Linked DNA regions of Homo sapiens: region 1 is linked to region 2. Evidence: fine-mapped expression QTL. A gene starts in region 2. The other region holds a variant in brackets. All regions are shown on one strand. Distances are from middle to middle. Region 1 overlaps HPD (4-hydroxyphenylpyruvate dioxygenase). Region 2 holds the start of PSMD9 (proteasome 26S subunit, non-ATPase 9).

What was found. PIP is the estimated chance that this variant, and not a neighbour inherited with it, causes the effect.
Region 1: its variant is fine-mapped to the expression of PSMD9 in whole blood (TOPMed, PIP above 0.99).

Annotation. Positions count from the first base shown.
Region 1 is chr12:121,835,599-121,851,522 of GRCh38, reverse strand. It overlaps HPD (4-hydroxyphenylpyruvate dioxygenase), which reads left to right. Exons shown (of 14, transcript NM_002150.3): 8 at 1,733-1,836; 9 at 2,447-2,524; 10 at 4,309-4,471; 11 at 4,590-4,661; 12 at 7,691-7,813; 13 at 11,475-11,591; 14 at 11,685-11,996. The coding sequence ends at 11,795. Among named protein-coding and RNA genes, the nearest start is that of TIALD, 13 kb to the left of the region's middle. RefSeq lists enhancers at 10,664-11,333, 12,005-12,675 and a silencer at 11,843-12,042. The variant C/T (reference allele first, on the strand shown) is at 6,913.
Region 2 is chr12:121,882,560-121,898,483 of GRCh38, reverse strand. PSMD9 (proteasome 26S subunit, non-ATPase 9) reads right to left here and starts at 9,694. Exons shown (of 6, transcript NM_002813.7): 1 at 9,490-9,694; 2 at 3,643-3,745. The coding sequence starts at 9,627. It also overlaps a transcript of HPD not described here. RefSeq lists enhancers at 8,810-9,423, 9,391-9,790, 9,424-10,037.

The sequences.
Region 1 (15,924 bases), 47 kb after region 2:
AATATACAAAAATTAGCTGGGCATGACAGGCGCCTGTAATCCCAGCTACTCGGGAGGCTGAGGCAGAAGAATCACTTGAACCCGGGAGACAGAGGTTGCAGTGAGCCAAGGTTGCACCACTGTACTCCAGCCTGGGCGACAGAGCGAGACTCCATCTCAAATAAATAAATAAAAATTTTAAAAAATAAAAGTTAAAAAATTAAATTAAACATAAAAATGGTTAAAGTGTGCCTGTAATCCCAGCACTTTGGGAGGCCAAGGTGGGTGGATCACTTGAGGTCAGGAGTTCAAGACCAGCCTGGCCAAAATGGTAAAACCCCATGTCACTAAGTAAAACAACACAAAAATTAGCCAGGTGTGGGGCTGGGCACGGTGGCTCATGCTTGTAATCCCAGCACTTTGGAAGGCCAAGGGGGCGGATCACCTGAGGTTGGGAGTTTGAGACCAGCCTGACCAACATGGAGAAACCCCATCTCTACTAAAAATACAAAATTGGCTGGACGTGGTGGTGCATGCCTGTAATCCCAGCTACTCAGGAGGCTGAGGCAGGAGAATCGCTTGAACCCGGGAGGCAGACGTTGTGGTGAGCCAAGATCGCACCATTGCACTCCAGCCTGGGCAACAAGAGCGGAGCTCTGTCTCAAAAAAAAAAAAAAATTAGCCAGGTGTGGTGGCACGTGCTTGTAGTCCCAGCTATTTGGGAGGCTGAGGCAGGAGAATCGCTTGAACCTGGGAGGCGGAGGTTGCAGAGAGCCAAGATCACACCACTACACTCTAGCCTGGCCAACAAGCAAGACTCCGTCTCAAACAAAAAAAAAAAAAAAAAAAAAGGCTAGGTACAGTGGCTCATGCCTGTAATCCCGGCACTTTGGGATGTTGAGGTGGGCCCGGCATGGTGGTACACGCCTATAATCCCAGCTACTCAGGAGGCTGAGGCAGGAGAATGGCTTGAACCCGGGAGATGGAGGTTGCAGTAAGCCGAGATCGTGCCAATGCACTCCAGCCTGAGTGACAGAGTGAGACTCCGCCTTAAAAAAAAAAAAAAAAAAAGATGGTTAAAGTGGCTGACAGAACTCTTCAGTATAATTTTTTTTTTGAGACGGAGTCTCATTCTGTCGCCCAGGCTGGAGTGTAGTGGCACGATCTCTGCTCACTGCAAGCTCTGCCTCCTGGGTTCATGCCATTCTCCTGTCTCAGCCTCCCAAGTAGCTGGGACTACGGGCACCCGCCACGCCACCACACCCGGCTAATTTTTTGTATTTTTTAGTAGAGACAGGATTTCACCGTGTTCGCCAGGATGGTCTCGATCTCCTGACCTCATGATCCACCCGCCTTGGCCTCCCAAAGTGCTGGGATTACAGGCCTAAGCCACCGCGCCAGGCTGCTCTTCAGTATAATTTAATCCAATGCCCTCCTGCGTTCTTCATCTAGTTGACCTACTGAAATAAATGAAGTAGGTGCTTCATTGAGTACCTCCCCTGTGCCAGGCACTGAGCTTGGCGCTGGGTACACCATCATGAGCAAAACAGTGTCCCCGCCCTCACGGAAACTCTCAAACAAGTGACAGATTGCAATTCATTTCAGAAAGGAGAAGTGACTTACCCAAGATCACGCATCTGGTTAGGGTCAGATGCAGGTTGGAACCCGGGGCTACGTTAGCGCTATGAAATGTGCTCTGTCCTCGGCGGGGATGGGTGCCCAGGGGCCGAGCCAGGCTGTTTTCCACCCGTAGTATGGGGACACCACACACACCCTGGTGGAGAAGATGAACTACATCGGCCAATTCTTGCCTGGATATGAGGCCCCAGCGTTCATGGACCCCCTACTTCCTAAACTGTGAGTGTCCCTCAGGGCAGAGGTGGGTGGAAAGCCCTGAGGGACTGTGAAAAGTAATGCCCCTTCCTCCATGTCCACTGCGCATGTGTGTTGGGGCAGAATGGAGCCGGCTAGGGAATTCCTGGAAGTCCTCAGGGGTGCTTGAAGAGGTGGCACAGAGGCTGAGACCATGGCCTCTGCAACCAAACTTCCCCGGGTTCAAATCCCAGCTCTGTTACTTCACAGCCATTTCACCCTGGGCAAGTCGCTTCATCTCTCTAGGCCTCAGTTTCTTCATCTGTAAAATGGGGACTGTAATAGTAAATGAGTTGACAAAATAAAATGTCCGGCCCATTAGTAAATGCTACATAAGTGTGAGTCCAGGCGCAGTGGCTCATACCTATAATCCCAGCACTTTGGGAGTCTGAAGCAGGAGGTTCACTTGAGCCCCAGAGTTTTAGACCAACCTGGGCAAAAAAAAGAGTCTCTCTTTTTGTAGAGACTCCATCTCTACAAAAAAATAGAACTCCAAAAACAGAAGTGTGAGCTATTATTATTATTGAGGGGTCATGGAGAAGGGAGCAATCTGGGGGGTAGCCACCTTCTCACCCCCATCTTCTTCCCTTCCCAGGCCCAAATGCAGTCTGGAGATGATCGACCACATTGTGGGAAACCAGCCTGATCAGGAGATGGTGTCCGCCTCCGAATGGTGAGACCTTGGCCCTCTCCCTCTGCGTGAAGATGACGGGTCCTCACGGTGGACTGGCCCACTCCCTGGTCCTTGCACTAACATGGAAAATACGACTGGGTGCAGTGGCTCACACCCGTAATCCCAGCATTCTGGGAAGCCGAGGTGGGAGGATCACTTGAGGTCAGGGGTTCAACACCAGCCTGACCAATATGGAGAAACCCCGTCTCTACTAAAAATATAAAAACTCAGTGGGCGAGGTGTTGGGCCCCTGTAATTCCAGTTACTCAAGAGGCTGAGGCAGGAGAATCGCTTGAACCCGGGAGGTGGAGGTTGGGCGACAGAGTGAGACTCCAGCCTGGGAAACAGAGCAAGATTTTGTCTCCAATAAACAAATAAAATAAAATAGACCGGGCGCACTTGCTCACGCCTGTAATCCCAGCACTTTGGGAGGCGGAGGCGGGTGGATCACCTGAGGTCAGGAGTTCAAGACCAGCCTGACCAACATGGCGAACCCCGGTCTCTACTAAAAATACAAAAATTAGCTGGGTGTGGCAGTGTGTGCCTGTAATCCCAGCTACTTGGGAAGCTGAGACAGGAGAATCGCTTGAACCAGGAAGGCGGAGGTTGCAGTGAGCTGAGATTACGCCACTGCACTCCAGCCTGGGTGAGAGAGAGAGACTTTGTCTCAAAATAATAATAATAATAATAAAGTAAAATAAAATAAAAGTGGAAAATACAGCACAAGATGTTGGGAGTTAGCCTGAGGCCACTGATGCATTTATTCACTGTAAAACTGTCAACATGGAGACCAGTGGACTTGAGGCCCAAAGCGACCCACAGGCCCTCCTTCTGAGGAACCCTGGGGACATCACAGTCCAGGGAGGCTTGGAGGAAGGTTGCCACCACCCAGAGAGCCCCCTGTCCAAATTCCAAGCAAGGGCCTTTTTCTCAAAGCACTTTACTTCCATCTGTGGGAGCCTTGCCGTCCTGTATGTATTTCGTTCCAAGACACTTCCACCTGAAGGAAAAATGTCATCATAAAGGTACAAATCTAGGCTGGGCGTGGTGGCCCATATTTGGAATCTTAGTACTTTGGAGGCCCAGGCAGGTGGATGGCTTGAACCCAGGAGTTCAAGACAGCCTGGGCAACATAGTGAGACCCCATCTCTACAAAAAATACGGCCGGGCACAGTGGCTCATGCCTGTAATCCCAGCACTTTGGGAGGCCGAGGCGGGTGGATCACCTGAGGTTAGGAGTTCGAGACCAGCCTGACCAACACAGTGAAACACTGTCTCTACTAAATACAAAAAATTAGTTGGGCATGGTGGTGCATGCCTGTAATCCCAGCTACTTGGGAGGCTGAGGCAGGAGAATCGCCTGGACCCAGGAAGTGGCAGCTGCAGCGAGCCGAGATTGCGTCACTGCATTCCAGCCTGGGCGAAAAGAGCGAAACTCCGTCTCAAAAAACAAAAAATAAAAATACCCCAAAATTATCCAGGTGTGGTAGCACATGCCTGTAGTCCCAGCTACTTGGGAAGCTGAGGTGGGAGGAGCAATTGAGCCTGGAGATTGAGGCTGCAGTGAGCCAAGACTGCACCACTGCACTCCAGCCTGGGCAAGAGTGAGACTCTGTCTCGAGCAACAACAACAACAAAAAGATCTAAATCTCTGATGGGTATGATGGCAGTGGCATCTCCTTTCTGGAGCCTGCTCAGGGACAGATTCTGGAAGGTGGAAATGGGTGATGGAGGCCGTCCCTGGAGGCGCTCAGAGCATATGTGTTCCACCGCCCACCCTACAGGTACCTGAAAAACCTGCAGTTCCACCGCTTCTGGTCCGTGGATGACACGCAGGTGCACACGGAATATAGCTCTCTGCGATCCATTGTGGTGGCCAACTATGAAGAGTCCATCAAGATGCCCATCAATGAGCCAGCGCCTGGCAAGAAGAAGTCCCAGATCCAGGTGAGGCCGCCCCTGGCTGGGGGAGAGGGGAGCAGGGAAGAGGTCTGGGGGCTCTTGTAGGGTCAGGGATGTGGGTGATGGGGCAAATGACAGTGGTCTCCTTGTTTCCCTCCCCCAGGAATATGTGGACTATAACGGGGGCGCTGGGGTCCAGCACATCGCTCTCAAGACCGAAGACATCATCACAGCGGTTAGAACCCCCTTCCCTGTCCGAATTCCTCTCTCATTCAGAGCCAGGGACGATCTCTGCAAAATTGAGAGGGCGGGTGGCGGCAGTCCTGGGCCCGTTTCTCTGGGCTGGGAGACTGACAGGACTCCCTCACTGCTTCTTGCAACTCATGGGCAGGCACAGCCACACCCACCCCCAGAGAGTTCAGTCTCCACAGAACCCCTGGGCTTTGGAGGTAGCAGGCGCCAGGGTATCAGGAAGCCTGGGTGATGGTCCCGGTTCTGCCAGTGGCTTGCTCTGTGTCTCTGGGAGATTCAGTGCTGTCTCTGGACTTTAGTTGCCTTACCTTAAAAATCAGGAAATTAGGGCCGGGCACAGTGGCTCACACCTGTAATCCCAGCACTTTGGGTGGCCAAGGCAGGGGGATCACCTGAGGTCAGGAGTTTGAGACCAGCCTGGCCAACATGGTGAAACCCCATCTCTACTAAAAATACAAAAATTATCTGGGCGTGGTTGCGGGCACCTGTAATCCCAGCTTCTCAGGAGGCTGAGGCAAGAGAAGTGCTTGAACTCAGGAGGTAGAGGTTGCAGTGAGCCAAGGTCGCACCACTGTACCACAGCCTGGGCGACAAGAGTGAAATTCTGCTTTAGAAAAAAATAATAGTAATTAATAAAGGAAATTAGGACTGGGCACAGTGGCTTATGCCTGTAGTCCCAACTACACGGGAGGCCAAAGCAGAAGGATTGTTTGAGCCCATAAGTTAGAGATCAGCCTGGAAAACAGTGGGACCCTGTCTCTGCAAAAAGTAAACAAAATTAACCAGGCTTGGTGGTTCATGCCTGTAGTCCTAGCTACTTGGGAGGCTGAAGCAGGAGGATCCATTTAGCCAAGGATTTCAAGGCTGCAGTTAGCTATGATTGAGCCACTTTTCTCCAGCCTAGGTGACAGAGAGTGAGGCCCTATCTCCCCGCAACCTCAAAAAAGAAATTTTTTTTAAAATGAGGAAATTAAGGTTGGGCATGGTGGCTCATGCCTATAACAGTTTCTGCCCTTGTGGAGCAATAAACAAAATAAGTAAAATATAAATGCTAGATGGTAGAGAGCACCCAGGAAGAAAGTAAAGCAGGGAATTGGGACAGCAAGGGTGAATGGCATTGCACATTTAAATTGGGGGGTCAGACACTGTGGGAGGCCGAGGCAGGAGGACTGCTTGAGCTCAGAAGTTCAAGACCAACGTGGGCAACATAGTAAGACCTCATCCTTTTTTTTTTTTTTTTTTTTGAGACGGAGCCTGGCTCTGTCGCCCAGGCTGGAGTGCAGTGGCGCGATCTCGGCTCACTGCAAGCTCCGCCTCCTGGGTTCACGCCATTCTCCTGCCTCAGCCTCCCAAGTAGCTGGGACTACAGGCACCCGCCACCACGCCCAGCTAATGTTTTTTTTTGTATTTTTAGTAGAGACGGGGTTTCACTGTGTTAGCCAGGATGGTCTCGATCTCCTGATCTTGTGATCTGCCCACCTTGGCCTCCCAAAGTGCTGGGATTACAGGTGTGAGCCACTGCGCCCGGCCATAAGACCTCATCTTTACAAAAAAATCAAAAAATTAGCCAGGTGTGGTGGTGCACACCTGTGGTTCTAGTTACCCAGAAGTCTGAAGTAGGAGGATCAGCTGAGCCTGGGGAGGTTGAGGCTGCAGTGAGCTAAGATCATGCCACTGCACTGCAGCCTGGGTGACAGAACAAAGACCCTGTCTCTCAAATATATATATGTGTGTGTATATATATATATATCCTTCTTTTTTGAGATGCAGTCTTGCTCTGTCTTCTAGGCTGGAGTGCAGTGGTGCGATTTTGGCTCACTGCAACCTCCACCTCCTGGGTTCAAGCGATTCTCCTGCCTCAGCCTCCCAAGTAGCTGGGATTACAGGTGCATGACACCACGCCTGGATAACTTTTTTTGTATTTTATTTTTATTTTTTATTTTTTATTTATTTTATTTTATTTTGAGACAGAGTCTCGCTCTGTTGCTCAGGCTAGATTGCAGTGACGCGATCTCGGCTCACTGCAAGCTCTGCCTCCCGGGTTTACGCCATTCTCCTGCCTCAGCCTCCCAAGTAGCTGGGACTACACGCTCCCACCACCACGCCCAGCTAATTTTTTTTTTGTATTTTTAGTAGGGGTTTCACTGTGTTAGCCAGGATGGTCTTGATCTCCTAACCTCGTGATCACCCATCTTGGCCTCCCAATGTGCTGGGATTACAGGCGTGAGCCACCT[C/T]GCCCGGCCTTTTTTTTGTATTTTTAATAGAGACAGGATTTTGCCATGTTGGTCAGGCTGGTCTCCAACTCCTGACTTCAAGTGATCTGCCCGCCTCAGCCTCCAAAAGTGCTGGGCTTACAGGCGTGAGCCACCACACTCGGCCTAATAGATCCTTAATCGTTTCATGCCTCAGTTTCCCCAGCTATGAAATGGGAGAATAGTCCTTCAGCTGCCTCAAAAGATTGCTGCATGGACATAATGAGGGAATACGTAGAAAGTGCTCAGGCCGGGCTCAGTGGCTCACGCCTGTAATCCCAGCACTTTGGGAGGCCGAGGTAGGTGGATCGCCTGAGGTCAGGAGTTCGAGACCAACCTGGCTAACATGGTGAAACCCCATCTCTACTAAAAATACATAGCTGAGTGTGATGGTAGTCACCTGTAATCCCAGCTACTCAGGAGGCTGAAGCAGGAGAATCGCTTGAACCGGGAGGCAGAGGTTGCAGTGAGCTAAGATCGTGCCACTGCACTCCAGCCTGGGCAACAGAGACTCCATCTCAAAAAAAAAGAAAAAAAGAAAGTGCTCAAGGCAGGCACATGGTGAGTGTTCTATAAATCTAGCAGTTGTTGTTCTAACGGGGCCCATGACAGAGAAGAAAGGGGAAGAGGCCACACAGCATCCTGGCAGTTGAGGGGAGCTAGGATAGGGACCCTGTATCCTGATGACCCAGCACCTCCACCTGGCTAGGGGAGTTGAACTTGGAGGCCGAAGGCTGACCTCAGCTTTGCTCTGAAACAGATTCGCCACTTGAGAGAGAGAGGCCTGGAGTTCTTATCTGTTCCCTCCACGTACTACAAACAACTGCGGGAGAAGCTGAAGACGGCCAAGATCAAGGTGAAGGAGAACATTGATGCCCTGGAGGTGAGGCCCAGGCAGGATCCGCAGCCTTGTGGGGGGAGTATGAGCTCTGCATTGCATCTTTTCAGAAATATTGTCTCAGCCCGGAGGGGAGCCCAGACCAAGTCCCTGCTGGCAAAGGACATTTATTCTAGGGTCTATGTGGGAGGAGGAGACAGATGACAAACAAATAAACAATAAAAGCACGGTCAGAGATAGTCAGTGCAGGAAGTTCAAACAGGCAGCCTGGGGCTGCTTTACAGAGACTGGTCAGGGAGGGCCTCTCTGAGGAGGTGACATCTGAGTGAAGTCTAGATCATGAGCGGGAGCTGGCCATGTGAACAGCGGGAAGAAAGGCATTCCTGGCAGAGGGATCAGCAAGGGCCGAGGTAGGAGCATGCCCTGAGCGTCTGAGGAACAGAAAGAATAGGCTAGAGTGGATGGGAGGCTGTTTTTGAGCGATGACCTAGGTCAGACAGGTAAGCAAGAGCCAGTTCCTCTTGTGAGCTATTATTCAGGAATCTGGATTTTGTTCTTTTGTGACCAGAAACCACTGGAGGGTTTTTTGGTTTGGTTTTAGCAGTGTTATTGACATATGTCACATAACATGTCATTTTTTTAAGGTGTACAATTCTATGATTTCTAGCTATTTGCTATGTTGTGCAACTATCATCAAAATCCATTTTAGGACTGGGTGTGGTGGTTCATGCTTGTAATCTCAGTACTTTGGGAGGCCGAGGCGGGCGGATCATGAGGTCAGGAGTTCGAGACCAGCCTGACCAACATGGTGAAACCCTGCCTCTACTAAAAATACAAAAATTAGCCAGGCGTGGTGACACATGCCTGTAATCCCAGCTACTCAGGAGGCTGAGGCAGGAGAATCACTTGAACCCGGGAGGCGGAGGTTGCAGTGAGCCGAGATTGCGCTACTACATTCCAGCCTGGGCGACACAGTGAGACTCTGTCTCAAAAAAAAAAAAAAAAAAAAAAAAGATCCATTTTAGGACTAGGTATGGTGGTTCATGCCTGTAATCCCAGCACTTTGGGAGGCCAAGGCAGGTGGATCACTTGAGGTCAGGAGTTTGAGACCAGCCTGGTCAATATGGCGAAACCCCCATCTCTACAAAAAGAAAAAAAAAAATTAGCTGTGCGTGGTGATCTGTGTCTGTGGTCCCAGCTACTGGGGAGGCTGAAGTGGGAGAATCACTTCAACCCAGGAGGTAGAGGCTACAGTGAGCCATCATCAGGCCACTGCACTCCAGCCTGGGTGATACCCTGTCTAAAAGAAAAACAAAAACAGTTAGGCCAGACACAGTGGCTCACACCTATAATCCCAGCATTTTGGGAGGTTGAAGTGAGAGGATTGCTTGAGGCCAGGAGTTTAAGACCAGCCTGAGAAACACAGGGCGACCCTGTATCTACAAAAAAAACAGTTTTAAAAAATTAGCTGGGCATGGTGGTTCGTGCCTGTAGTCCCAGCTACTCAGGAGGCTGAGGTGAGAGGATCACTTGAGGCCAGGAGGTCAAAGCTGCAGTGAGCCATGATCAGGCTACTGCATTCCAGCCTGGGCAAAAAATCAATTTTAGAACATTTTTGTCACCCCAAAAAGAAACCTTGAGCCTCTTAGCCAGCACCTCCCAACCCCCTCTGTTCCCTTCCCCCCTCCCACCCCAGCCCTAGGCACCATTAATCTACCTTCAGTCTCTATAGATTTGCCTATTCTGGACATTTCATCAAAAGGAATCACAAAGTCCAGGCACGGTGGCTCATGCCTGTAATCCCAGCACTTTGGGAGGCTGAGGTGGGCGGATCATGAGGTCAGGAGTTCAAGACCAGCCTGGCCAACATGGTGAAACCCTGTCTCTACTAAAAATACAAAAATTAGCTGGGTGTGATAGCAGATGCCTGTAATCCCAGCTACTGGGGAGCCTGAGGCCGGAGAATTGCTTGAACCCAGGGAAGGGGAGGTTGCAGTGAGCCGAGATCGCGCCATTGCACTCCAGCCTGGGCGACAGAGTGAAACTCCATCTCGGAAAAAAAAAAAAAGGAATCACAAAATAGGCCTATTGTGAGCAGCTTCTTTCCCATAGCATGTGCTCAAGGTTCATCTGCGTGGGGTGTGTGTCAGTGCTTCGTTCCTTTTTGTGGCTGAAAAATATCCCATTGTATAGATAGACACACATTGTTTATCTATTCCTCGTTGATAGATATTTGGGTTGTTTCCACTTTTGGGGTGTTATACGTAATGCTACTGTGAACATCTATGTACAAGGCTCTGTGTGGACGTGTTTTCAATGCACTTTGGAATATATCTAGGAGTAGCTAGGTCACATGGTAATTCCATGTTCCCTTTTGTTTGTTTAGAGATGGAGTCTTGCTTTGTTTCCCAGGCTGGGGTGCAGTGGTGCGATCTTGGCCCATTGCAACCTCCAGCCTCCTGGGTTCAAGCAATTCTCCTGCCTCAGCCTCCCCAGTAGCTGGGATTATAGGCGCCCGCCACCACGCCCAGCTAATTTTTTTTTTTTTTTTTTTGAGACAGAGTCTTGCTCTGTTGCCCAGGCTGGAGAGCAGTGGCCGATCTTGGCTCACTGCAACCTCCACTTCCCGGGTTCAAGCGATTCTCCTGCCTCTGCCTCCTGAGTAGCTGGGATAACAGGCGTGTGCCACCATGCCCAGCCAATTTATTTTTATTTTTATTTTTAGTAGAGATGGGGTTTCACCATGTTGGCCAGGCTGGTCTCGAACTCCTGACCTCGGGTGATTCACTCACCTCAGCCTCCCAGAGTGCTGGGATTACAGGCGTGAGCCACCTTGCCCAGCCTAATTTTTGTATTTTTTTTTGTAGTGACTGGGTTTCCCCATGTTGGCCAGGCTGGTCTCGAACTGAGCTCAGGTGATCCACCTGCCTCGGCCTCCCAAAGTGAGCCACCATGCCTGGCCACCCCCTTTTTTTTTTTTAATCCGTATTTTAAGGAAGCAACACTATATGTTTAACTTTTTGAGAAGCTGCCAGACTGTTTTCCAAAGTGGTTGCACCATTTTACAGTCCCACCAGCAGTACATGAGGGTTCCGATTTCCACTGGAGGATTTTAAACAGGGGAATGACATGATCCGACTTTTAAAAGATCCCGCAGCAGGTCATGGTGGCTCACGCCTGTAATCCCAACACTTTGGGAGGTCGAGGTGGGTGGATCACCTGAGGTCAGGAGTTCGAGACCAGCCTGACCAATATCGTGAAACCCCGTCTTACTAAAAATACAAAAATTAGCCGGGCATGGTAGCCTGCGCCTGTAGTCCCAGCTACTCGGGAGGCTGAGACAGGAGAATCGCTTGAACCCGGAAGGCGGAGGTTTCAGTGAGCCAAGATTGCGCCACCGCACTCCAGCCTGGGTAACAGCGCAAGGCTCCGTCTCAAAAAAGAAAAAGAAAGTGTCCTGATAATGTCTGCGGGGAGGATGGATTGTAAGGATACAAGATTAGAAGCGGGCAGCAGTCTTGAATGGTGCCTTAGGAACTGTAGTAGGGGGATAGTAATAGGACAGTTTGGGGATATATTTGGAGGTGGCTGAACTGCCAGAAAAAGAGGTCATTTCCAGACTTTTGGGGTGCAGGAGCCCCTGTGGACTTTCCAAGGATCTCACCGTGCCAGCCTCCCCTAGCAGAGCCCCCTGTCTCCCGCCTAGGAGCTGAAAATCCTGGTGGACTACGACGAGAAAGGCTACCTCCTGCAGATCTTCACCAAACCGGTGCAGGACCGGCCCACGCTCTTCCTGGAAGTCATCCAGCGCCACAACCACCAGGTACTGCTTGTCCCCGGCAGGCCCGAGGGGACAGGCAGCTAGCACACTCGGTTTTCTGGGTCCTTGGCTCATCTCCTCTCTTTCCCGCCACAGGGTTTTGGAGCCGGCAACTTCAACTCACTGTTCAAGGCTTTCGAGGAGGAGCAGAACCTGCGGGGTAACCTCACCAACATGGAGACCAATGGGGTGGTGCCCGGCATGTAAGCCCCGCCCACCCCACGGAGGCCACAGCCACACAGCCACGCCCCCTGATTCTGGAACTCGCCCAACTTCCCTACTGGCTGCTCCCCTTGGGTCCCGCCCACCAGCGGACTCGGCCCCCAAGGCTCCGCCCACACTGACCACGCCCCTCGGCGGGGCCGCCCTCTGCTCCAGCCCTCCCGATTAAAGCGTGCCCCGGTCCAATACTGTGTCTGTGTTTGTGTTGCGCATAAGGCAGTAGTGCCTTATGGCAGCCAGGGGGAGGCCAGGGCGGCCGCCAGCGCCGCGGGACCGAGGAGCTGCGGGTGCCAGCGCTTTGCCAGCGGGACCACGCGGAGAGGGGAATTCTGGAACCAGGGAAGGAAGGGGACTTGCTCTGGAGGGAAAGACGGATGACACTGCTTTTGTAGAGAGATAAACGCGATTCAGACAATAAAGCAAGCGATGAGCCGGGCGTGGTGGCTCACACCTGTAATTTCAGCGCTTTGGGAGGCAGAGGTGGGAGGATCGCTTGAGGCCAGGAGTTCGAGCCCAGCCCGGTAACATAGCAAGACCCCGACCCCCCTGCGTCTACACAAATAACAAATAAAAATTAGCCTGGCGTAGTGGCGCACACCTGTGGTCCCAGCTACTCAGGAGGCTGAGGTGGGAGGATCGATTGATGGACAGAGGTCTAAGCTGCAGCGAGCCCTGATCCTGACACTGCACTCCAGCCTGGGCAAGAGTGAGACCCTGTCTCAAAAAAAAAAAAGGCAGTTGATGAGAATATGTGGAAGCGAAGATCGCAGGGGAGCTAATTTTGATAACGGAAGACCTCTCCGAGAAGGTGACATTTGGGAGCCAGCCATGGGACCATGCTCGGGAAAAGGATTCCAGGAAGAGCGAACGGAGAAAGGCCCTGAGGTGGGGTCAGAGTTTGGCAGCATCTTGTCTGCCGGCTTGATGATCTCTTTTTGTTGTTGTTGAGACGGAGTTTCGCTCTGTCCCCCAGGCTGGAGTGCAGTGGTGCGATCTCGGCTCACTGCAAGCTCCGCCTCCCGGGTTCACGCCATTCTCCTGCCTCAGCCTCCCGAGTAGCTGGGACTACAGGCGCCCGCCACCACGCCCGGCTAATTTTTTGTATTTTTAGCAGAGACGGAGTTTCACCTTGTTAGCCAGGATGGTCTCGGCCTCCCAAAGTGCTGGGATTACAGGCGTGAGCCACCGCGCCCGGCCGATGATCTCTAAAGATGAGCTGTCTTCAGTTTTGCTACCCAGAGCCCAAACCTCTGAACACAGGAGAGGGGAGAGTGTTAGACAAGGGACTCTAGGGGCAGCATCCCTGCTCATCAACTGTAGGATATGGTCCCTTGGTTCCTGGTCTCAGAGATAAAGCAGGTAGGAGGGGCCTGGTATCCCAGTCCCTGCCCTCAGCAGGGCAGTGCCCATGACCACCCACGCAGCTGCACTGCCCCAGCCTTGCCCGCAGTGAGGACTTCTTTTGGAAAGGGGCTTGTTCATACTCATAGAAGAGTGAGTGATCCTTGCAAAAGAATGAGGCAGCTGGGTCCTAAAACCCTAGGAAGGAGATTCTTTCTTCAAAACCAGGTAAGAGTTGGTGGTGGGCAAATTTGGCCTCTTTTTTTTTTCTTTTTCTCTCTTTTTTTTTTTTTTTTAGACAGAGTCTCACTCCATTGCTCAGGCTGGAGTGCAGTGGTGTGCTCTTGGCTTACTGCAACCTCCACCTTCTGAGCTCAGGTGATCCTCCTACCTCAGCCTCCCAAGTAGCTGGGACTATAGGCATGTGCCACCACGCCCAGCTAATTTTGTTTTTATTTTTCATGGAGATGGGATCTCACTATGTTGGCCAGTCTCGAATTCCTGGTCTCAGGTGATCCGCCCACCTCAGCCTTCCAAAGTGCTGGAATTATAGGAATGAGCCACTGTCTCTGGCCTCTTTCTGCTTCTAATGCTTGAGAACCCTCCGTGAGGATAAGTCAACTCAGAGCTAGGAGGCAGCAGAGCTCAATAGAAGAAAAAAATACTCTGAGTTGGTATAATGGTGGGAATTGGGGATTTTTTTCAGATTATAGAAGAAATCAGAGCTTCTGGGATCACGAACTTCAGAAATAAAGAGATCAGAGAGAACCCAAAGGATTCCGTGCAAAAAAAATACTCCCCCTCTATTCTCCTGTGACTTAATGTGAAGAAGGGAAATTGTATAACCCAGAAGGATGCAAACTAGTGGCTTACAGACCAAATGTGGCTCATAGACCTACTTCGTTTTGCCTGCATGGTTTCAAACAAATTTGAGTCAACATTTTAGAAAGTTGGGCACATATGGCCAGGTGCGGTAGCTCATGCCTGTAATCCCAGCACTTTGGGAGGCTGAGGCAGGTGGATCACTTGAGGTCAGGAGTTAGAGACCAGCCTGCCCAACAGGGTGAAACCTCGCCTCTACTAAAAATACAAAAATTAGCCGGGAATGGAGGAGGGTGCCTGTAATCCCAGCTACTCGGGAGGCTGAGGCAGGAGAATCCTTTGAACCTGGGAAGTGGAGCTTGCAGTGAGCCGAGATCACGCCTCTGCACTCTAGCCTGGGTGGCAGAGTGAGACTCCATCTCAAAAATAAATATTGGGAGGTCAAGGTGGGTGGATCACCTGAGGTCGGGAGTTCAAGACCAGCCTGGCCAACATGGTGAAACCCCATCTCTATTAAAAATACAAAATTAGCTGGGCCTGGTGGTGCGCACCTGTAATCCCAGCTACTCGGGAGGCTGAGGCAGGAGAATCACTCGAACCCAGGAGGCAGAGGTTGCAGTGAGATCGCACCACTGCACTCCAGCCTGGGCAAAAAGAGCGAAACTCCATCTCATAAATACATAAATAAATAAATAAAGCATGCAGAGCAGACACCCACTAGCTGAGAACATACTAGAGAGCCAGGCTGCCTGAGTTCACCTCTCAGATAGCCACGTGGTAGCTGTGTGACCTATGGCAAGCTACTTGACCTCTCAGTGCTTCAGTTTCCTATGTTAAGTGGGAATTATAATAATACCCTCCTCCTAGCCCTGTTGCTAGTATCAAAGACGTTTAAAACAGAGGCTGGCACAGTCAATGCTATATGAATAGTCTTATTTTGGGGGGAGGGGCTCTTGCCCACAAGGGAACCCAAGTCTGTCTGGGACCTCCCTCTCTCTGTCTGAGGTCTCTGTCACCAAGGCTGGAGAGCAGTGGCATGATCACAGTTCACTGCAGCCTTGATCTCCCCAGTTTCAGCGATCCTCCTACCTCAGCCTCCCTAATAGCTGGGACCATAGGCATATGCCACCACGCCTGGCTAATTTTTGTATTTTTAGTAGAGACAGGGTTTCTCCATGTTTCCCAGGCTGGCCTCAAACTCCTGGCCTCAAGTGATCCTTTCTCCTGCCTCAGCCTCCTGAGAAGCTGGAGAGGGGCTCCCATTTTGGCCCCCACAATACAATAGAGGCAATGAAGAAAGGAGTTATCTCTTGGGACTGAGGAGCAGAGGAAGAGGTGGATGGATTTGAGGAATAGGGAAGAAGCATCAGATTTGGTAGGTAAGGGAGGGAAAGAGAAGGTTTAAATCCAGGATCCCTGGCCTTTGAGCTTAGGTGGTCAGTGGCAGGCAGCGGTGGGTGGAGGCAGAGAACAGAAGTGTCATTGACCAAAGTAGAAAATATGACAGGAGAGCAAGTTCAAGAGAGAAGATGAAGACAGGCGCAGTGGCTCGTACCTATAATCCTGGCACTTTGGGAGGCCGAGGCCAGAGGATTGCTTGAGCCCAGGAGTTCAAGACCAGCTTGGGAAACATAGTGAGACCCTATTTCTATAAAAATTTAAAAATTGGCCGGATACAGGTGGCTCACACCTGTAATCCCAGCACTTTGAAAGGCTGAGGCGGGAAGATTACTTGAGGTTAGGCATTTGAGACCAGCCTGGCCAACATGGTGAAACCCCGTCTCTACTAAAAATACAAACATTAGCCGGGCATGATGGCACATGCCTGTAATCCCAGCTACTCAGGAGGCTGAGGCAGGAGAATATCCTGAACCCAGGAGGCGGAGGTTGCAGTAACCGAGATTGCGCCACTGCACTCCAGCCTGGGCGACAGAGTGAGACTCTGTCTCAA
Region 2 (15,924 bases):
AGGTGGCCAAAGGGCACCCCTGCTACAGGGCTCTTGCCAATTGGCTGGGTTTGGGAGGAAGACCCAATGCTACAAAATCTTTGATTTTTCCAGAAAAGCTGAAAATTGGGATCTTTGAAGTGAAATTCTCTGATTTTTCAGTACAGATAGCTAATTCAAAATGTTGTGAACCACCATGGCAATCTGCAGGCCACGCCAGCACAGCAGCTGGTATTTTGATACCTTGTGCCTGTCAGTGGGATTGCGGTACTACCTGACCTGCCTCCTCTGCCACTGTCACTTTGGAGCAAAGGCAAGACCCTCAGTCATGAAGGGATTCAAGTTCTCAACCCACAGGAGCAGATGTGGGAAAAGAACCCAGATCTGAACAAGTGGAGACATGCACTTGGGAGGCAGACTTACATAATACATGGTCACTTTCACTAGAAAAGCCCTCCCCCAGTGAGGTCCACAGCATCCCTAGACTCTGCAATGCCTGGCACAGGGAAGTGCTCAATACACAGCTGTTGGGGAATGGAACGAACGACTATTTACAACATATTACAATTCTAATCAAAATGTTGAAAGGGTTTTTTTCAGTACAAAATGTTTCTGCAGTGTATTTCAAAAAACAAATTTGCAATTATAACAAACGTACCATATTAACATAAGCTGTTAGCTGGGCGCGGTGGCTCATGCCTGTAATCCCAGCACTTTGCGAGGCCGAGGCGGGCAGATCACCTGAGGTCAGGAGTTCGAGACCAGCCTGGCCAACATGGTGAAATCCCGTCTCTACTAAAAAAATACTACTAAAAAATTAGGCCAGGCATGGTGGCTCACGCCTGTCGAGGCCGAGGCGGGCGGATCACCTGAGGTCAGGAGTTGGAGACCAGCCTGGCCAACATGGTGAAATCCCGTCTCTACTAAAAAAATACTACTAAAAAATTAGGCCAGGCATGGTGGCTCACGCCTGTCGAGGCCGAGGCGGGCGGATCACCTGAGGTCAGGAGTTCAAGACCAGCCTGGCCAACATGGTGAAACCCTGTCTCTACTAAAATATAAAAATTAGCCGGGCACGATGGCGGATGCCTGTAATCTCAGCTACTTGGGAGGCTGAGATGGGAGAATCACTTGAACCCGGGAGATGGTGAGTGCAGTGAGTGAGCCGAGATCATGCCACTGCACTCCAGCCTAGGTGGCTAAGCAAGATTCCATCTCAAAAAAAAAAAAAAAATTAGTCCGGTGTGATGGTGGGCACCTGTAATCCCAGCTACTTGGGAAGCTAAGGCTGGAGAATCACTTGAACCTGTGTGTATACACATGTGTATATATTTGGGAGGCCTCAGCCTCCCAAAGTGCTGGGATTACAGGCATGAGCCTCTGTGCCCAGCTTATGCAGCATTTTTCCTTCTAGAGGATTTCAGAGAAAAGTGAAATCTTGGTTACACCCAGCCTGAGTCATTCACTCATATGTGTATTTTGCATATATACACGCATGTGTATATTTTACATACACATGTATGTGTGTATATATTTACATGTATGTGTAGATATATACACATGTATGTGTATATATGCTGTTAACAACACGGGAGATTACATACAGAAGCCAAAGGACCTATGCATTATTTTCCAATTTTTTTTTCTTTTCTTTTTTTTTTTTTTTTTGAGACAGAGTTTCACTCTTGTTGCCCAGGCTGGAGTGCAATGGCACAATCTCGGCTCACGGCAACCTCCGCCTCCTGGGTTCAAGTGATTCTCCTGCCTCAACCTCCTGAGTAGCTGGGATTACAGGTTCGTGCCACCATGCCCAGCTAATTTTGTATTTTTAGTAGAGACAGGGTTTCTCCATGTTGGTCAGGCTGGTCTCGAACTCCCGACCTCAGGTGATCTGCCCACCTCGGCCTCCCAGTGTGCTGGGATTACAGGCGTGAGCCACCGCACCCAGCCATTATTTTCCAATTTTTATGTAAATCTATAACTGTTCTTTAAAAAGGGCTGTTTTGAGAATAGATTTTCTTTCTTTTTTTTGAGACAGAGTTTTGTTTGCTCTGTCGCCCAGGGTGGAGTGCAGTGGTGTAATCTCGGCTCTTTGCAACCTCTGCCTCCTGGGTTCAAGTGATTCTCCTGTCTCAGCCTCCCAAGTAGCTGGAATTACAGGCATGTGCCACCACATCCAGTTAATTTTTCTATTTTTAGTACAGACAGGATTTTGCCATGTTGGTCAGGCTAGACTCAAACTCCTGACCTCAGGTGATCTGCCCGCCTTGGCTTCCCAAAGTGCTGGGATTACAGGCATGAGCCACCGCACCCGGCCGAGAACAGATTTTTCAAAAAAAGACCAATAAGGAATTGCTCAAACAGATTTTTTTTTTTTTTTTGAGACGGTCTCTTGCTCTGTCACTCGGGAGGTGGAAGTTGCAGTGAGCCAAGATCGTGCCACTGCACTCCAACCTGGGTGACAGAGCGAGACTCCGTCTCAAAAAATAAATAAATAAATAAGATGTGATGCAGATGGAATCAAGATTCAAACAGATTAAAGAGGAGTTAGTAAGTGAAAAATGTGGAGGATAAATGCTAATAGGACTCTGTGGTGGAGACGGTTGCCTACCTATGGCTGAGTGGATAATGGCCCCCAACACATCCACATCCTAGCCCCTAGAAGCTGGGAATATGCCACCTTACATGGCAAAAGAGGCTCTGCAGATGTGATTAAGGACCTTAAGATTCGGACATGATCCTGGATTATCCAGGTGGGCCTGGTGTCATCACAGAGGTCTTTATAGGTGAAAGAGGGAGGCAGGAGAGTGAGAGAAAGAGATGTTATGACAGAATCAGAGGGAGGGAAATGCGACTGCTGGCTGTGTAGATGGACGAAGCCATGAGCCAAGGACGGTGGGCAGCCTTTGGAAACCAGAAAAGACCAGGAACAGGTTCTCCCCTAGATCCTCCAGAAGGAGCCAGCCCTGCCAACACCTTGATTTTAGTCCAGTGAGACCCATCTGGACTTCTTATCTCCAGCTACTAAGTCTGTGGTCATTTGTTATGGCAGAAACAGAAACAAATATACTATCCAATCTGTACTCTCTGCTAGCTCTTTAATTAAAAACAAATCACGTCATTTGTTATGGCAGAAACAGAAAACAAATATACTATCCAATCTGTACTCTCTGCTAGCTCTTTAATTAAAAACAATCAGCACCTTGGAAGGCCAAGGCAGGAGGACCACTTGAGTCCAGGAGTTCAAGACTCACCTGGGCCACTTAGTGAGACTCGTCTCTACTAAAAAAAATTAGCCAGGCACAGCGACACATGCCTATAGTCCCAGCTACTTGGGAGGCTGAGGCAGAAGGAGCACTTGGAGCCTGGGGGGTTGAGACTGCAGTGAGTCATGTTAGCACCACTGCACTCCAGCCTGGAAGACAGAGCAAGACCCTGACTCAAAAAAAAAAGAGAGAGAGAGAGAGAGAGAAAATGAAACCAGAAATATAGAACCTTAGAGTCTAGCCCATTCCCTTGGTTCTCAGTCCTTGGATGGGGACAAGACAATCCCATCAAGGCAGAAGAGAAGGCAGTAGATAATACAGATAGTTGGTTTTATTTGTATGCCTTTAACACCTTCCCACCACAAGGTGGGGAAAGTCTTCTAAGAGGGCCACTCACATATGATGTTGTGCCTGGCGGTGCGGACTTGGTACAGGTCCACGTCTGACCGGGGGTAGCCCTCACAGTCCACCAGCGGCTCGTTCATCCCAATGCCTTTTTGCTGGAGGAAAGAAACGTGGTTAAAAGGTGCTCATGGGTGTAATGTCCCCAGGATGTCTTTCCCCAGACCCTTCTCCTCTGAAGTCATAATAAAGGTGACAGTAATGAAAACTGCCACATACTGATCACTTACACCAGGGGCTCTACTCATGCCCTCACAACTACCCTGGGGTGGGCACTGTGTTTTTCATTTTTTATTTTTAACGACGCAAGTAATGCATGAATCCATTCTTTTTTGAAGTTAAAACAGTGCCGATAAAACCAAAGACTCCTTTGAGCATCATCCCCAAGGCCAGCCTCTTCCTCCACTCCTTCACACCCTCCTTCCCACAGGTGGCTGACACCTGGCTGCTGGCCCTGGAAGCTAGAGGGGAGTGAAAAGCCCAGACAGCACCCAGCTGTGGCAGGGCTTTGATTCTTCTGAAAATAAAAAGATCTGAAGAAGGAAACTGATAGCACCAGCTGCCTCCGGGGAGAAGAACTGGGTGGCTAGGTGACAGGGCAGGGAGAGAGACAGTCCATTTTATACCCCTCTGTAGGTTTTGAATTTTGCCTATGGGAATGTATTCTTTATTCAAAACAACACTTTTTTTTTTTTTAACATGAGTCAGAGGAGAGTACACAAAAGCAGTGAAACCAGTCACATGGTTCAGGGGAGGGGCTTTGCAATTGGTTAGACTTTAATTTGAATCTCAACTCTGCCATGTACAAGCTGGGCATCCTTAGCTGAGACCTTCTCCTCTCTAAGCCTCAGCTTCCTCAATTATAAAATGGGAATAGGAGCACTCGCCTCCCTCCCTACCTGCTGCAAGAACTAACGAGCTGACCTGCAGAGTACTTAGCACATGCCACGCGCATACACAGCATAGTGGGTTGAAGAGCGGCCCCCAAAAACAGATAACCACGAGCTAACCCCCAGAACCTGTAAATATGACTTTATTTGAAAAAGAGTCTTTGTAGATGTAATTATGTTAAGGATCTCGAGATAAGCTCATCTGGTGGCTGGTGTCCTCATAAAAGAAAGGCAGAGGTAGGTGTGGGACAGACACAGGAGGAAGGCCACATGAAGATGCAGGCAGAGGTTCAAGTGACACAGCTGTAGGCCAAGGACCGCCAGCAGTCACCAGAGGCCAGGAGAAAGGCTTGGGAGCTTCTCTCTCAGAGCCTGCAGAAGGAGCCAACCCTGCTGACACCTTGATTTCAGACTTCTGGCCTCCAGAGCTGGGACAAAGTAAATTCCTGTTTTAAGTCACCAACTCTGTGGTGTTAAGGTGGCCTCAGAAAACGACTACGCGCAGAAGTCATAAATAGTGGCTGTAAGGATTAGTCAGTCCAGGGACAAGCTGCCAGTGTACACAGGCACTGAGAAGAGGGATTCCATTCATTTTGCTCCCTTTCTCTCTGGAAGCCTCCGGGTTACACCCAAACCTACTGTCCACTGCGCAGGGAGATAGTTCTCCACACTCCCCTAACACAGGACTCGCCGTGACACTGCAGAAATGCGCCAGGGGCTAAAAACCTGTATCTGCTCCTGCCTTCCCACAGTGGTTAAGGGTTGACCAGCCTTTGAGAATCAATATCACATTGGATAATGCTTCTCAAAGGATGGGATCCATAACACTAGCAGCTCACACACACGGCATTAAATAACCCTGAATCAAAAATACATATTCCTCTCCCAATTCTCTACAATCCTGCAATTGTCAAGGCAAAAGTGTCCATTTGGTGCTGGTCTCTGCAACACCCCAGTTACTTGCTATCTCTAGTACCCTCTGTTTTTATAACAGTTTTATTGAGATATAATTCAGATACCATATAACTGACCCATGTAAAGTGTAAAAGGTAATGGCTTTTGTGTTTGTATTGGTTTGAGACAAGATCTTCTGTTGCCCAGGATCGGGTGCAGTGGTGTGTTCATAGCTCACTGCCGCCTTAAACTCCTGGGTTCAAGCGATCTGTCTCAGCCTCCTAAGTAGCTGGGACCACAGGCACATGTCATCACACCTGGCTAATTTTTAATTTTTAATTTTTTTTTTTTAAAGACAGAGTCTCGCTCTGTTGCCCAGGCTAGAGTACAGTGGCGAGATCTTGGCTCACTGCAAGCTCCGCCTCCTGGGTTCAGGCCCTTCTCCTGCCTCAGCCTCCCGAGTAGCTGGGACTACAGGCGTCTGCCACCACACCCGGCTAATTTTTTTGTATTTTTAGTAGAGACGGGGTTTCACCGTGTTAACCAGGATGGTCTCGATCTCCTGACCTCGTGATCTGCCAGCCTCGGCCTCCCAAAGTGCTGGGATTACAGGCATGAGCCACCATGCCCGGCCTTTAATTTTGAATTTTTTGTAAAGATAGGCTCTTACTGTGTTGCCCAGGCTAGTCTCAAACCCCTGGCCTCAAGTGATCCTCCTGCCTCAGACTCCCAAAGTCCTGGGATTACAGGCATGAGCCACCACGCCTGGCCATTGACCATTTGTATTGACCATATTTTCTTTGGAGAAATGTTTATTCAGATCCTTTCCCTGTCTTCTAATTGGCTGTCTTTTTATTATTGAGTTGTAAGAGCTCTTATTATAGTCTAGATACTATCCTCTTATCAGAGAAATGATATGCAAATATTTTCTCCCATTCTGGAGCTTATCTTTTCATTTTACTATGCCCTTTGAAACACAGTTTTAAAGTTGAAGTCCAACTTATCATTTTTTCTTTTGTAGCTTGTGTTTTTGGTGCCATATCTAAAAAGGCTTTGCCTAATCCAAGGTCATGAAGATTTACTCCTATGCTTTATTATACGAGATTTATAGTTTTAGCTGTCCACTTCTTTTTTTTTTTTTTTTTTTTTTTGAGATGGAATCTCTGTCACCCAGGCTGGAGTGTCGTGGTGCAGTCTTGGTTCACTGCAACCTCCGCCTCCCAGGTTCAAGTGATTCTCTTGCATCAGCCTCCCGGGTAGCTGGGATTATAGATGTGTACCACCACACCTGGCTAATTTTTGTATTTTTCGTTGAGACGGGGTTTCACCATGTTGGCCAGGCTGGTCTCGGACTCCTGACCTCAAGCGATCCACACACCTCGGCCTTCCAAAGTGCTGGGATTACAGACGTGAGCCACCATGCCCAGTCTTTTTTTTTTTTTTCTTTTTTCTTGAGACGGAGTCTCGCTCTGTCACCCAGGCTGAAGTGCAGTGGCGCAATCTTGGCTCACTGCAAGCTCCACATCCCGGGTTCAGGCCATTCTCCTGCCTCAGCCTCCAGAGTAGCTGGGACTACAGGCGCTGGCCACCACGTCCAGCTAATTTTTTGTATTTTTAGTAGAGACGGGGTTTCACTGTGTTAGCCAGGATGGTCTCGATCTCCTGACCTCGTGATCCGCCCGCCTCGGCCTCCCAAAGTGCTGGGATTAGAGGCATGAGCCACCGCACCCGGCCTTTTTTTTTTTTTTTTTTTTAAAGAGACAGCATCTCACTCTGTCACCCACAAGAGAGTGCAGTGGTGCAATTATAGCTCCCTGCAGCCTCAACATTCAGGGTTCAAGCAATCCTCCTGCCTCAGCCTCCCAAGTAGCTAGGACTACAGGCATGCACCACCACGCCCAACTAATTTTTAAAAAAATTTTTTGTAGGCCTGGCGCGGTGGCTCAAGCCTGTAATCCCAGCACTTTGGGAGGCCGAGGCGGGCGGATCACGAGGTCAGGAGATCGAGACCATCCTGGCCTCAGGTGATCCACCCACCTTGGCCTCCCAAAGTGCTGGGATTACAGGCGTGAGCCACCAGGCCCGGCCCAAACCCACTTTTTAAAAACAAATATAGAGCACGGTTTCAGGCTGAAAGCTTTCAGCAAGCAACAGCAGCTAGCCAGAAGCAACCAACATGCCGTATCAACATGCAAAGCATCTGACCTTATATTTAAGAGAAGAGATTATCATTTTCCATATGCAGCGGAGTTTTGAAATTTCCTTTTAAAATACATTTATGGGCAAGGCACTGTGGCTCATGCCTGTAACCCCAACACTTTGGGAGGCAGAGGCAGGAGGACTGCTTGAGCCCAGGAGTTTCAGACCAGTCTGAGCAAGCAACATAGTGAGACCCCATAGCTACAAAAAATACAAAAATTAGCTGGGCGTGGTGGCACGTACCTGCAGTCTCAGCTACTTGGGAGGCTGAGGTGGGAGGATTGCTTGACACCAGGAGATTGAGGCTGCAGTGAACCAAGATGGTGCCACTGAACTCCAGCCTGGGCAACAGAGCGAGACCCTGTCTCAATAATAATAATAACAATAATAATACATTTATATAAGATTAAAAGTAGATCTATTTAAATAAAAATATCAAAGGAATAACACAAGTGGTATATGCATATAGTATACTGCATGTGGTAGAAAGTAAACTAAAGTTTGAGAAATTGCTGGTAATTTGCTTGAAAGCACAGGTTCTGAATGTAACAGACCTGAAGTCTGAATCCCACTTTGAGCATATAGTCAGCACCCAGTAAAATGGTTCTCTGGCCCTCCGTATGAAACTTCATCTTATGGCCGGACGCGGTGGCTCACGCCTGTAATCCCAGCACTTGGGGAGGCCAAGGTGGGCGGATCACCTGAGGTCAGGAATCCAACACCGGCCTGACCAACATGGTGAAACCCTGCTTTTACTTAAAATAAAAAATTAGCCTGGCGTACTGGCGCTCGCCTGTAATCCCTACTACTCGGGAGGCTGAGGCAGGAGAATCACTTGAACCCAGGAGGCAGAGGCTGCAGTGAGCCGAGATTGAGCCACTGCACTCCAGCCTGGGTGACAAAGCAAGACTCCGTCTCAGACAAAAAAAAAAGAAACTTCATCTTACATCACCTAAAATGCATTCCATCCCACCCTACTTGGGCATAATTAATTGCATCTTCCTCTGCAAACTGATCTGTGATTTTACACTAGATGGCATAAGAAAACCTGCATCAGCTTTTGAGCCAGACCCACCACTGCCACTTCCGAACTACATGACCTTAGATAGGCGTTTGCCCCACTCTGGGCCTCAGTTTCCTCCTTATGCAATAAGGATGATGAGCCTTATTTGTAACTCAAAGTTCGGTCCTTAGACCACTAGCATCAGCATTGCTGGGAGTTTGCTACAAATGCAGAATCTGCTCCCTTGCCTCAAACAAAATCTGCATTTTAATAAGATCCCCAGGTAATTCATATACACACTGAAGTTTAAGAATTCACGATACAATCAGCAAATGCCGGGTGCAGTAGCTCACGCCTGTAATCCCAGCACTTTGAAAGGCCGAGGTGGAAGGATCGCTTGAGGCCATGAGTTCGATACCAACCTGGGCAACACAGTGAGACTCTGTCTTTACAAAAAGTACAAAATTAAGATAAGGCAGTCAGCGAGGCACATGACAGCTGTTTAATCACCAAGTAACACCTGTTTCCCCCTCCCTAAAATGGAAAGAGTAACAGCATCCACCTCAAAGGGTTGTTGCAAAGATTAAATTAACTCAACAATGCACAGCACTTAAACCAGCGCCTAGCACACAGCAGGGCTCCACAAACTCTTGCTGGATATCAATATGGCTAACTCTTCAGTTGCTAAAGTTCTTTGCCTGCCTTCTTGTGCCGACAGAGGCCGCACTTGCGGCGCCTTGGGCCTCCCAGGGAGATCCGTTGCGGAGCGCCCAAACTGAGGCCGCCCTGGCATCCCAGTACCCCAGGGACTCCGGGCCGGGTTAGGCGACTTGGGGCGCCCCGAACCCACACTCACGCTTTCCAGCACGTCATAGTTGGCCTTGATCTGCGCTTCTATCTCCTCCTTGCGCCGCATCAGCTCCTGGACGTCGCTGACAGTCACGACGCCGGCCTGCGAGGAGCCTCCGCTCTGCCTCGCTTCCTCGTCGGACATCGTGAACCCCGGGCCGCGACTCCAGAGACCCGGCTCCCGGGCTAGGGACGACGCCCCAGTCGACCGTAACTACGGCTCCGCCCATGCGCCAAAACACCACAGCCGTCCGCGAACGCGAGAACAGTCAAGGGGCGGGGCTTGGGATGGGGCTTAGGGCGGAGCTGGGTCACCGGAAGCCGCGCCCTGCCGGAACACGTGCGCCTGTGGTGACCCGGCAGGAGTAGCGTCGGAAGCAATGGATCCCCACGCAATTGCACACCAACGCTAGGGGATGATCTCGCCCCAGCTGACTCATTTTCTCATTCGTGCAGCAGACATTTATTGAGCGCCTACTGTATGGATGGATACTGTACGCCAGAGAACCGCTGCGTGGCGCTCCAATTCAGTTCTTCACATCCACACAGCCCTGGAGGATTTACAAAATACATTAAGGTTCCTTATCCCTCACTTTACAGATCCGATATGCCTGAGTACACACCCCGTATCTTGCCACTTAACGGCAATCTGTGTGACCCTAGGTCACTACTTGGCTTCTCTGGGCCTCAGTTTCCTCATCTGTAAAATGGGGCAGTAATTGATAGCAATCTATCTCATAGAGCTGTCCTTCTGCTAACAAATATTCATGGAATGATTCCTATGAGCCATATACTGTTGAAGGTGCTGGATGTTCCTGTTAAGGCCTCTAAAAATCGTAGTGATAATAATAACGGTAACAGTGTTTATTTATTGATACTTATAATGTGCCAGACGCTGTTCTAAATGCCTTACATATATTAATTCAACAACCTCATGAAGCTAGATTATTACATCCCAATTTGACAGCTGAGAAAACCGTCTCAATAACCAATTTACCCAACTAGCAAAATGTGAGGCCAAAATTCCAACCCAGCTTACCTAAACAATCAACTTTGATATCTGACCATGTGCCTCTAATATTTTGTCTTGAAAAGGGCTCAGCGGTCATCTGTGTAGTATTCAAACATGTTTGCCCTGAATCTAATCATTGGAAAACAGACATATCCAAAAGAAGGGACATACTTCAAAACAACTGGCCTGAAAACTTCAAAAAAAGTCAATGTTGTGAAATACACATGGGGAATAAGGGGTGGGGGACAGAGAAAGGAGGCGGATATGCAATTGCCTAGATTTAAGAACACTAAAGATGTGCATCAACTAAATGCAATGGGCCAGGTGTGGTGGCTCATGCCTATAATCCCAGCACTTTGGGAGGCTGTGGCAAGCAGATCATTTGAGGTCAGGAGTTTGAGACTAGCCTCGCCAACATGGTGAAACCCTGTCTCTACCAAAAATATAAAATATTAGCCGGGTGTGGTGGCACACACCTGTAATCCCAGGTACTCAGGAGGCTGAGGTCTCGAACCCCTGGCCTCAAGTGATCCAGCCCAGCTCGGCCTTTCAAAGTGCTGGGATTACAGGAGTGAGCTACCGCACCCCTCAAAAATAAACTAACATTTCTAACATTATCGAGAGAGAGAGAGAGAGAAATACAGGTGCAGTGGCTCATACCTGTAGTCCCATTATGCTGGGAGATCAAGGCAGGAGGATCCCTTAGGTCCAGGAGTTTGAGACTAGCCTGGGCAACATAGCAAGACCTCCATCTCTACAAAAAAAAAAAAATAATAATTAATTAGCAGAGGACCAGGTGTGGTGATTCACACCTGTAATCCCAGCACTTTGGGAGGCTGAGGTGGGTGGATCACTTGAGGTCAGGAGTTCAAGACCAGCCTGGCCAACATGGTGAAACACCGTCTCTACTAAAAATACAAAAGTTACCAAGGCACAGTGCCACACACTTGTAATCCCAGCTACCTGGGAGGCTGACGCAGGAGAATCGCTTGAACCGGGGAGGCAGAGGTTGCAATGAGCTGAGATCATGTCACTGCACTCCAGCCTGAGTGACCGAGTGAGACTCTGTCTCAAATAAATAAATAAATAATAAAGTTAAAAAGGGAGGAAGAGAGAAATAATGACTAAATGCAATACATGATCCTTACTTGAATTATTTAATGAGAAACAGCAGCTTTACAAGACTTATTGGGCCAACTGGTGAAATCTAAATATGAACTTTATATTAAATTATAGTATATCAGTGTTAAATTTCCTCAGTCAGATAATGGTGTTGCAATTATATGAGAGAATCACTTTTATCTTTATTGGAACGAGATAAATGCTCAATTATTTAGATGTGTAGTGTCATGATTTCTGCTACTAACTTGCAAGTGGTCCGAAGAAAGTGATACAAGGGGAGAAAGAGGCAAAATGTAACAATTAGCAAATCCACGTGAAGAGTATAAGCATGTTCAAGAAAACTGTTTTGTAAGCTGCTTATGGCTATAATCCTAGCATTTTGGGAGGCCAGGGCAGGTGGCTCACTGCCTGAGCGGCAGAGCAAGACTCCGTCTCAAAAAAAAAAAAAAAAAAAAAACTAGGCCAGGCGCGGTGGCTCACGCCTGTAATCCCAGCACTTTGGGAGGCCAAGCCAGGTGGATCATGAGGTTAGGAGATCGAGACCATCCTGGCTAACACGGTGAAACTCCATCTCTACTAAAAATACAAAAATTTAGCCGGGCATGGTGGCACGTGCCTGTAGTCCCAGCTACTCAGGAGGCTGAGGCAGGAGAATGGCATGAACCTGGGAGACAGAGCTTGCAGTGAGCAGAGATCGTGCCACTGCACTCCAGCCCGGGCGAGAGAGTGAGACCCCATCTCAAAAAAAAAAAAAAAAACTAAATGCAATATGTGGCCAGGTGCGGTGGCTTACGCCTGTTATCTCAGCATTTTGGGAGACCGAGGCGGCTGGATCACCTGAGGTCAGGAGTTCAAGACCAGCCTGGCCAACATGCTGAAACCTTGTCCCTACTAAAAATACAAAAATTATCCGGGCGTGGTGGCTCTGTTGCCCAGGCTGGAGTGCAGTGGCGAGATCTCGGCTCACTGCAACGTCCACCTCCCTGGTTCAAGCAATTCCCCTGCCTCCCGAGTAGCTGGGATTACAGGCGTATGCCACCATGCTCGGCTAATTTTTTTGTATTTTTAGTAGAGACAAGGTTTCACCATGTTGGCCAGACTGGTCTAGAACTCCTGACCTCAGGCAATCCACCCGCCTTAGCCTCCCAATGTGCTGGGATTACAGGCGTGAGCCACCGCACCTGGCCAAATTTCCTGATTTTTAAAAAAATTGTAATATCCTCCCACCCTTGATATCTGAAAATTTCCTGATTTTGATACTTTCACTGTGGTTTTGTAAGACAGTGCCCTTAGAAAAAGTACCCTGTAGTATTTAGGGTTAAGAGAGGCAATTTACTTTCAAATGGTTCAGAAAAGAATACAGATATAGGCCGGGCGTGGTGGCTCACACCTGTAATCCCAGCACTTTGGGACACCGAGGTGGGCGGATCACAAGGTCAAGAGATGGAGACCATCCTGGCCAACATGGTGAAACTCTGTCTCCACCAAAAATACAAAAATTAGCTGGACGTGGTGACTCATGCCTGTAGTCACAGCTACTCGGGAGATTGAGTCAGGAGGATCACTTGAATCCGGGAGGCAGAGGTTACAATGAGCCGAGATGGTGCTACTGCACTACAGCCTGGCGACAGAGCAAGACTTCATCTAAAAAAAAAAAAAATACAGATATATATGTAAGGCCGGGCATGGTGGCTCACGCCTGTAATCTCAGCACTTTGGGAGGCTGAGGGGGGTGGATCACTTGAGGTCAGGAGTTTGAGATTAGCCTGACCAACATGGTGAAACCCCGTCTCTACTAAAAATACAAAAATCAGCTGGGCGTGGTGGCAGGCACCTGTAATCCCAGCTACTCGGGAGACTGAGGCAGGAGAGAATCGCTTGAACCTGGGAGGTGGAGGTTGTAGTGAGCCGAGATCGTGCCACTGCACTCCAGCCTGGACCATATAGTGAGACTCCGTCTCAAGAAAAAGAAAGAGATATATATTTGTAGACAAGAGAGAGATAAAGTAAATACGGCAAAATGTTAATAATTGGTGACTCTGTAAATTATTTGTAAATGTAAATTATTTACATTTACAAAATGTAAATAATTGGTGAAACATATAAATGTTCTTTATAATATTTTTGGAACTTTTCTGTGAGTTTAAAACCACTTCAAGATAAAATTTTAAAACAAACTTTAAACAGAAAGAAGAAAAAAAGAGAAAAGGTAGAAAAATAAACTAACATTTCTAACATTGTCAAAAGAGAGAGAGAGAGAGATACAGGTGCAGTGGCTCATGTCTGTAGTCCTATATCTCTGGGAGATCAAGGCAGGAGGATCCCTTGAGTCCAGGAGTTTAAGACCAGCCTGGGCAATATAGCAAGACTTACGTCTCTACAAAAAAAAAAATTAATTAGCGGAGGACCAGGCATGATGGTTCACGCCCGTAATCCCGGCATTTTGGGTGGCCGAAGTGGGTGGATCACATAAGGTCAGGGGTTTGAGACCAGCCTGGCCAACATAGTAAAACCCCATCTCTAGTAAAAATACAAAAATCAGCCGGGCACAGCGGCACACACCTGTAATCCCAGCTACTTGGGAGGCTGAGGCCGGGGAATTGCTTGAGGCAGAGGTTGCAGTGAGCGGCGATCATGCCACTGCACTCCAGCCTGGGCGACAGAGCGAAACTCCGTCTCAAAAAAAAAAAAAAAAAGAGAGGAAAAGAGAAACGATGACTAAATGCAATACATGATCCTTACTTGAATTATTAATGAGAAACAGCGGCTTTAAAAGACTTACTGGGCCAATTGATGAAATCTAAATATGAACTTTATATTAAATTATAGTATATCAGTGTTAAGTTTCCTCAGTCAGATAATGATGTTGCAATTATGTGAAAGAAACTCTTTTTATGGTAAGGAGATAAATGCTCAAATATTTAGATGTGTAGCGTCATGGTTTCAGCTACTAACTTGCAAGTGGTTCAAAGAAAATGATACAAGGGGAGAAAGAGGCAAAATGTAACAATTAGCAAATCCACATGAAGAGTATATGCATGTTCAAGGAAACTTTTGTAGGCAGCTCATGGCTATAATCCTAGCACTTTGGGAGGCAGAAGTGGGAGGATCCCCTGATCCTAGGAATTTGAGACCAGCCTGAGCAACGTGGCAAGACCCAGTTTCTATCAAAAAAAAAAAAAAAAGAAAGAAGGAAAAGGAAAAGTTGGTTGTGTGGGGGAACTATCTTGCAGTTCTTCTGAGGTTTGAAATTTTTCCAAATAAAAAGGGTGAGGAGAAGATTCTTACCCATGCGGTCTGAAAAGAGAGCTGTTGTTAGGTTACTACATTATGAGCTTGTCAATATTGCTGTCATTATAATAAACCTCTATCCTGTGACTGCCTTCATAGCTCCCAAATCCACCCATCTCCTCCACCTCTACTCCTACCCCGCCACCTCTTCCTCCTGATTGGGCAGTCTTTGAACTGTCTCAGGTTGCGCACTTTAACCCAGTCTCCAAAGCAGCCAGAACAACCTTCCCAAGAGTGACATTGGCACGCTACTGCTTAATGGCTTCAGTGCCCTTCTCTTGGCCTTTAAGACTCCTGATCTCTGCTTGCCTTTAGACCACCTCCCATCCCTGTACCCCACCACACACACACACACACACACACACACACACACACACACACACACACACACACACAACTTATGCTCCAGCCATGCTGAACTTCTAACAGTTTCTGGCACGTTTTTTGCTCAGTCTCTCTTAGCACTGGGTCTTAGCACCTGCTCTTCCCACCCTGGAACACCATCTCAGGCCAGGCTGACTTGAACCTCTCCTTCAAGATCCAGCTCAAGGCTGGGTGAGGTGGCTCACACCTGTAATCCCAGCACTTTGGGAGGCCGAGGCGGGTGGCTCACTTGAGGTCGGTAGTTCAAGACCAGCCTGGCCAACATGGTGAAACCCCATCTCTACTAAAATAGATTAGTTGGGTTTGGTGGCAGGTGCCTGTAATCCCAGCTACTCAGGAGGCTGAGGCAGGAGAAGCTGGGAGGCAGAGGTTGCAGTGAGCTGAGATTACACCACTGTACTCCAGCCTGGGCAACAGAGCAAGACTCCCTCTCAAAAACAAAAAGAAAAAGATCCCTCTCAAAAACAAAAAGAAAAAGAAATACTACCTCCCTGGAAATCATTATGTGTCCCACCCCACAGCTGGGCTGTTTTCTGCACTTTTCACTTGGTATTGTAAATGCATGTTTACCTGTCTGTCCCATGCACTGGAGATTCTTAGAGAATGTGGACTGAGGCTTGTTTATCTTCAAAT